2 separate regions of the Homo sapiens genome follow, and region 2 is linked to region 1. Evidence: fine-mapped expression QTL. A gene starts in region 1. The other region holds a variant in brackets. All regions are shown on one strand. Distances are between the middles of the regions.

Region 1 (2,920 bases):
GTAAAATGGGGATAATGAATACTCACACCCCACAGGCTTTTTATTTTTTCTAATGGAAAATGACCCAAACTGCAAAGCATCTGTTTATAAAATAGTATATATACTCAAAAGGCTCGGGTCTCACATCATGGTAAGACAATGCTATCCTTTGTCTCCAACGGTTTGCTTAAATTTATCACATTAAGACTATAATGTATCAAAGAAAAACTGTTCATGCAACCCTCTTAAAATATGTCAGTTTATAGGGAATAATAATACCAGATGTGAATAGAATAGATACTCCAAAACCACTAGAAAACCTTGTCAAATAGACGGAGTAAAAAAAAAAAAAAAAAAAGCCACACATTGATTTTAATGTCAGATTTATAACTAAAAATAATTATTTATTGAACTAAAAATAATTATTTATTGATCTAAAATGATCACAACACTCAGTTGGTCCTAGCAACGACTAAAACTTGCATAAACTATACCTTAGATAATTACAAAGAACCGCATTTAGGTGGTGTCGGCTTATAAGGAAACAATATTTTCCAACATCCTTGAAAAAAATGAAGTCTAACTATTAATAGTTTCCAGTTTCTATAAAAAAGGGATGACCTTTCATTTTACAACCAATTTTTTTGGTGAAATTATTTTTTTTCAAGTGGCATGAAAATAAATATAATCGAAAATATGGGAGGGGGTTCTAGATCATTAAAGTGCCTATTTAGCGTTTTAAATAATTACAGAAATATCTTTTAAAGTTTTCTTGGTGTAGAAACCTTTACGATTAGCCCCCAGAGTAGAAAAAACTGGCACATTATTTAACTTTCCTTCAGCAAAGTATTGGATATACACAAAAAACGTGATGCCTCCCTGATATTAAACGAGAAAAAGGGGGAAAAAAGCATGTATACGTCGATACTTTCATTTAAAAATCATGGTGATTCGCTTATGTCTCCATACAATTTTCCTCGTCCCCTGTGCAAATTCCCCTGAACGGATTTCAGAACCAAAAACTAGCTGATGAGCTGGGGGCCATTTAAATTCGCTCCCCTCGAAGGCGCCCGAAGTTCGCCTTCCTTTCCCTTTCTTCCCTCTTCGCTCCCTTTTTGTGCCAGCTCAGCAGTCTCATTGAAGCGAGCGGCGGCGGCCGCGCCGTGGTAAACAAGTGCCGGGCTGTCAATCAAGAACTAGACCGGAGCAGGAGAGGACCGGCCTAAACCGGCGCGAGCAGATCCCAGCCGGCCTGCCCGCGCGCCGCCGCCGCCGCCGCTGCCGCCCGCGCGCCCCGCTATACATACGGCATACGTCGCGCGGCGCTCGCGCCCGTGCCCGCGCAACCTAGCCTGCTGGCCGGGGGGCGGGGCGAGCGAGCCGCGGCGCTTCCGCTTTACACGCCCCAGCCGGCGACCGGTTCCATCTGGCTCGGGCCACTCTGACACCTTTAGTTTCGGCAAGGGATATTGGGGTGGCGAAGGGGAGGCGGGGGCCCGAAGGCTTCGGAAAACGATGGGGGAGGGGGCAGAGGATACCCGTCGAAGCCCCCCCCTCCCCCAACATTTCGATATTGGAATCACTTTCCTTCTTCCTCGGGCCAGCCTTTGCTCTGTCCCCTCAGGTCAACTCAAGGTAGACAGTGTGGCGACTGGAGAGGTCGGGGAACAAGCTTTGTTTCAGCTAAGGGGAAAACAAGCGTTCACAGGAGTCCCCTGACACCTCCCACTCGGAAGATAGCTAACGGGGGTCCTGCCAACCCTTCCCATCCAACTTCCATCTGAAAAGGATTTTCTGCTAAAGTTGGGTCCATGGCCATCCAGCACCTGTAAGGCCGGCAGGAGCGTCTGCCCTCTACTCAGTTAAAGCCTGAAGTCGTTTCCTTTCGATGGCCCTTAGGAGGCCCAAAAGAGGGGCGACAGAACATGATGTTGACACGGGCTGGGCGCCCCCAGAAGCCCGGGAACAAACGTGAGTACGGGCTGGGTGGGGGTCGCTCTGGAGGAACCTTTACCGGCGCACGCCGGTTTCCTAGCCTCGCCCCAGCCGCGGCGCGAGCTCACTCTCCCCACCCGCCCGCGCCCAATCCAATCAGCGCCTGCCATCGCCTTAGCAACAGGCTAACAAACCTGGCTCCGCCTATCCCGGGCGCCCGGGGCGGGGTCTCAGTTACCAGGCTAGTTTGAGAGCTCCCAGTTTCAAGTCATTGAAACTATTCCAGACTGAGCTCGTCTACGCGTTGCAGGGTTTGGGGGGCATTTTGTTGGGGGTGCAGGGCATTTAGTTTTCTTTACCACGAAATCATGGTGCAACTAATGAAATTATATTTGTCCTCACATCTCGTTGTTCTACTTTTCCCCACTGCAAGTCTTAACCCCTTGAGGAAAAATCTGTTTTCTTTCATCCGTTTCATAAAAGGCTGCAATATTCAGAAAGGTACAAACACAAAGTCATCTATCTGCTTTTCAACAAATACCAAGGCTGTCATTAGGCATTTGCATCTCCTATCAGTGTTAACACTTGGAGAGATTAATTAGTTATTTCAGGATGCAAAGTACCTGTATCTAACTACGAAAATCCTGCTAAAGAACTGAGTTCACCTTAATAGTTTCAAAAATAATGCATTAATACTGTCCCTCAAAGCATCCTTCATTTCTCACTTGCCTTAGTCATCAGCACTTCTCCAGGATGTACGTTTTTAATATAAAAAATAAGGTAAAATATGTCTCTAATTTTTTTTCTGAAAAATCGCCAACATCTGAACTAAATACTGCATTAAAAAGGAGAGGCACAAAAATTACATAACCAGTTTTAACATTATATTCTTCTTGGGCTAGGAATTAAGTCATCGCCACCACCTGACGCGTGTAACCAATCTGCTGAGAGCAGAACAAGCGCCCCTCCTCACCACCCCCCAGAACTGGTCCGAAACAGGATTGAA
Region 2 (2,920 bases), 41 kb after region 1:
TGAGGGTCTGGTGGTGAAAAGTACTTTTTCAACTAGATATATTAGAATGACAACAGCAAAGCAAGAATGTGGTAGGGTCACATAAAGGAGTCGTGATCTGTGGGAAATTATTTTTTATGATTCTCCAAGATGGCTGTACATATAAGCATAAAAGTCAATAAACAAGTGCCTAACCTTTAGCTCTAAATTAACTTTTGAGCGCTTTGAATGCCTGGCACAAAAATATTTAGGGGTTTGGCGCCATCTGGTGGCCAAATATCAACTTTTCAGCTTCTCTTTTATGACTAAGAAGTGAATTACTCTGCACTTTCCAATAAACACTATTAATAAATAAAATTATTTAAAATGTTGATTTCCAGAACTTGAGAAGACAAATCAAAGACAGATTTCTGTTATGTTACCTATTGTTATATGACAGAATTTCAGTCTTGAGTAGGTTCTTTTATACTTGCATTTGATTTATTTATGAAAGCATTATAGACATAAATCTGCTATCTTTTTCTTAATACAAGAGAAGACTCTTTCCCCAAAAGAAATTAGACGTGCTCAATAAAATCTAAATTTATTTTTTCACAATTCTGTAAAAGATTGAGCTAGGGGTGCGTGTGTGTGTGTGAATATCAGAATTTATTTTAAAAATGCAAGAGGGAGAGGGGAAGGAGCTGGTAGTGACATTGTTAATTGTCTGCTTTGCAATAGCAAAGACTTGGAACCAACCCAAATGTCCATCAATGATAGACTGGATTAAGAAAATATGGCACATATACACCATGGAATACTATACAGCCATAAAAAAGGATGAGTTCATGTCTTTTGTAGGGACATGGATGAAGCCGGAAACCATCATTCTGAGAAAACTATCGCAAGGACAGAAAACCAAACACTACATGCTCTCACTCATAGGTGGGAATTGAACAATGAGAACACTTGGACACAGGGTGGGGAACATCACACACCGGGGCCTGTCGTGGGGTGGGGGAAGGTGGGAGGGATAGCATTAGGAGATACACCTAATGTAAATGATGAGTTAATGGGTGCAGCACACCAACATGTGCTGTTGTACACGTGTACACATGTATACATATGTAACAAACCTGCACGTTGTACACATGTACCCTAGAACTTAAAGTATAATAATAATAAAAAAAAATTGTCTGCTTTGTACCCAGGGCTGTTCTAGATGCTTTCAGTGGATGGCCTCAATGAATTTCCGCAACCATCTTTCCAATGGGAAGTGTTGTCCCAGCTTTACT[G/T]CTGGACAAGTGTCTAAGAGGTTAAGGACATAAATGCTCAAGTTTTGTGAGAAAGCCGTTTATTTTAACAGAATGATTGCAATTGCTCATATTAAGCTATGACAGAAAAACTGGATTAACACTTTTTTTAGTCTTTTTCTTTTCAGCTTTTCAAGATAAAAGTTTCCTGTGTCTCCTGATTAAAGTGCTTCTGTGATTGTTGCTCTGCATTAAGTTGTATACTTCCTCGTTCTTTCCTTAGAGCTTCTTTTCACAATCCAGGAAGCAACTCGGTGGGGCACAGCATGGGGTAAACAAAATGCCAAGGGAGGGAAGAGTTCATATTGGTGGAATTTTTTAGTTACCTCTCTAGAAACTAGTGGAAACTTCTTTGCTTCTCTTCTTTTTACTGACAATTTAAAAAAATAAATTATTTTATTTTAGATTCTGGGGTACATGTGTCTGTTATATGCGCATGTTTTGTAGTGGTGGGGATTGGGCTTCTAGCGTACCCATTATCCAAATAGTGAGCATTGTACCTGATAGGTAACTTTTTCAATCCTTGCTCCCGTCCTACCCTCCTTCCTTTTGGAGTCCCCAGTGTCTATTCTTTCCATCTTTATGTCCATGTGTACCCATTGTTTAGCTCTCACTTATAAGTCAGAACATGTGGTATTTGGTTTTCTGTTTTCTGAGATCATTCTCTTAGGATAATGGCCTCCAGATCCATCCATGTTGCTGCAAAGGACAAGATTTCATTCTTTATGGCTGCTTTTAAGTCATTTTTTTTTCTTTTGTAGTGACTCACTTTTATCATTGTTAATTAGATTAAGTGGGTCTTTGGTTTAATTCTATTTTTAGGGTAATGTAAACCACAAGATTGCTTGTGTTCTGTGCTACTACACTTTTGTTCACTGCTGTATCTTCAGTGTCCAAGAGAAGCATTATACATATAGGTAGCAGGCACTCAATGGGTTTTAACAGAAAGACACATACACATACACACACACACACACACACACACACACACACACACACACACACACAGAAAGATAAAGAGAGAGCACGCACAAGTCAGTAACGGAAGGAAGCAAAGGAAAGGAGGGAGAAAGGCAGAAGGGGAGAGGAGCTGCTTGGTAAAGGTGCAGTAGGAAGTTTCACCTACAGCACTGGGTATTGTGGAAGTCAAGTGGAGGAAAGTTAACATCTACTGGAGGCTGTTGTGTGCCATTCACTGTTAAGCACTTTATAACTGTAATTTCATTAATCCTAAAACCAACCAAGCGAGCTGGTTATTATTGTTTCCCTTTTCACAGATGAGAAAATTGAGCTCACTGTTGTTAAGTGATTTACAGAAGGTCATACAGCTTACAAGTGGCACAGTCAAGATTTAAATTTTGTCTCTCTTTCTTATGACTTACATTTTAAATGAGTTGTTCATTTATTCATTCAGCAAATATTCATTGAACAATGTAGCACTCTTCCCTGATAATCTCAGAACCTGCAATCCTGTAGGCTAAAGATTCCCCTAAAGTATTCCTATAGGCTAAGTAATCTCCCAAAGTATTTCTTCAGTCAAAACCTCTCCTCTGAACTCCAGATGCATATACCTACATGCCTTTTTGACATTCCCACTAGGGCTTTTGTACATACCTCAAGCTAATATATACCAGTAAAATTTTAGATTA

What was found. PIP is the estimated chance that this variant, and not a neighbour inherited with it, causes the effect.
Region 2: its variant is fine-mapped to the expression of ARRDC3-AS1 in whole blood (TOPMed, PIP 0.95).

What each region holds. Positions count from the first base shown.
Region 1 is chr5:91,378,975-91,381,894 of GRCh38, forward strand. ARRDC3-AS1 (ARRDC3 antisense RNA 1) reads left to right here and starts at 1,373. Exons shown (of 3, transcript NR_027435.1): 1 at 1,373-1,950. The region is part of intron 1 of ARRDC3 (arrestin domain containing 3); the gene reads right to left. RefSeq lists silencers at 1,235-1,414, 2,035-2,104.
Region 2 is chr5:91,419,552-91,422,471 of GRCh38, forward strand. ARRDC3-AS1 (ARRDC3 antisense RNA 1) reads left to right here. Exons shown (of 3, transcript NR_027435.1): 3 at 1-1,164. Among named protein-coding and RNA genes, the nearest start is that of ARRDC3, 38 kb to the left of the region's middle. The variant G/T (reference allele first, on the strand shown) is at 1,254.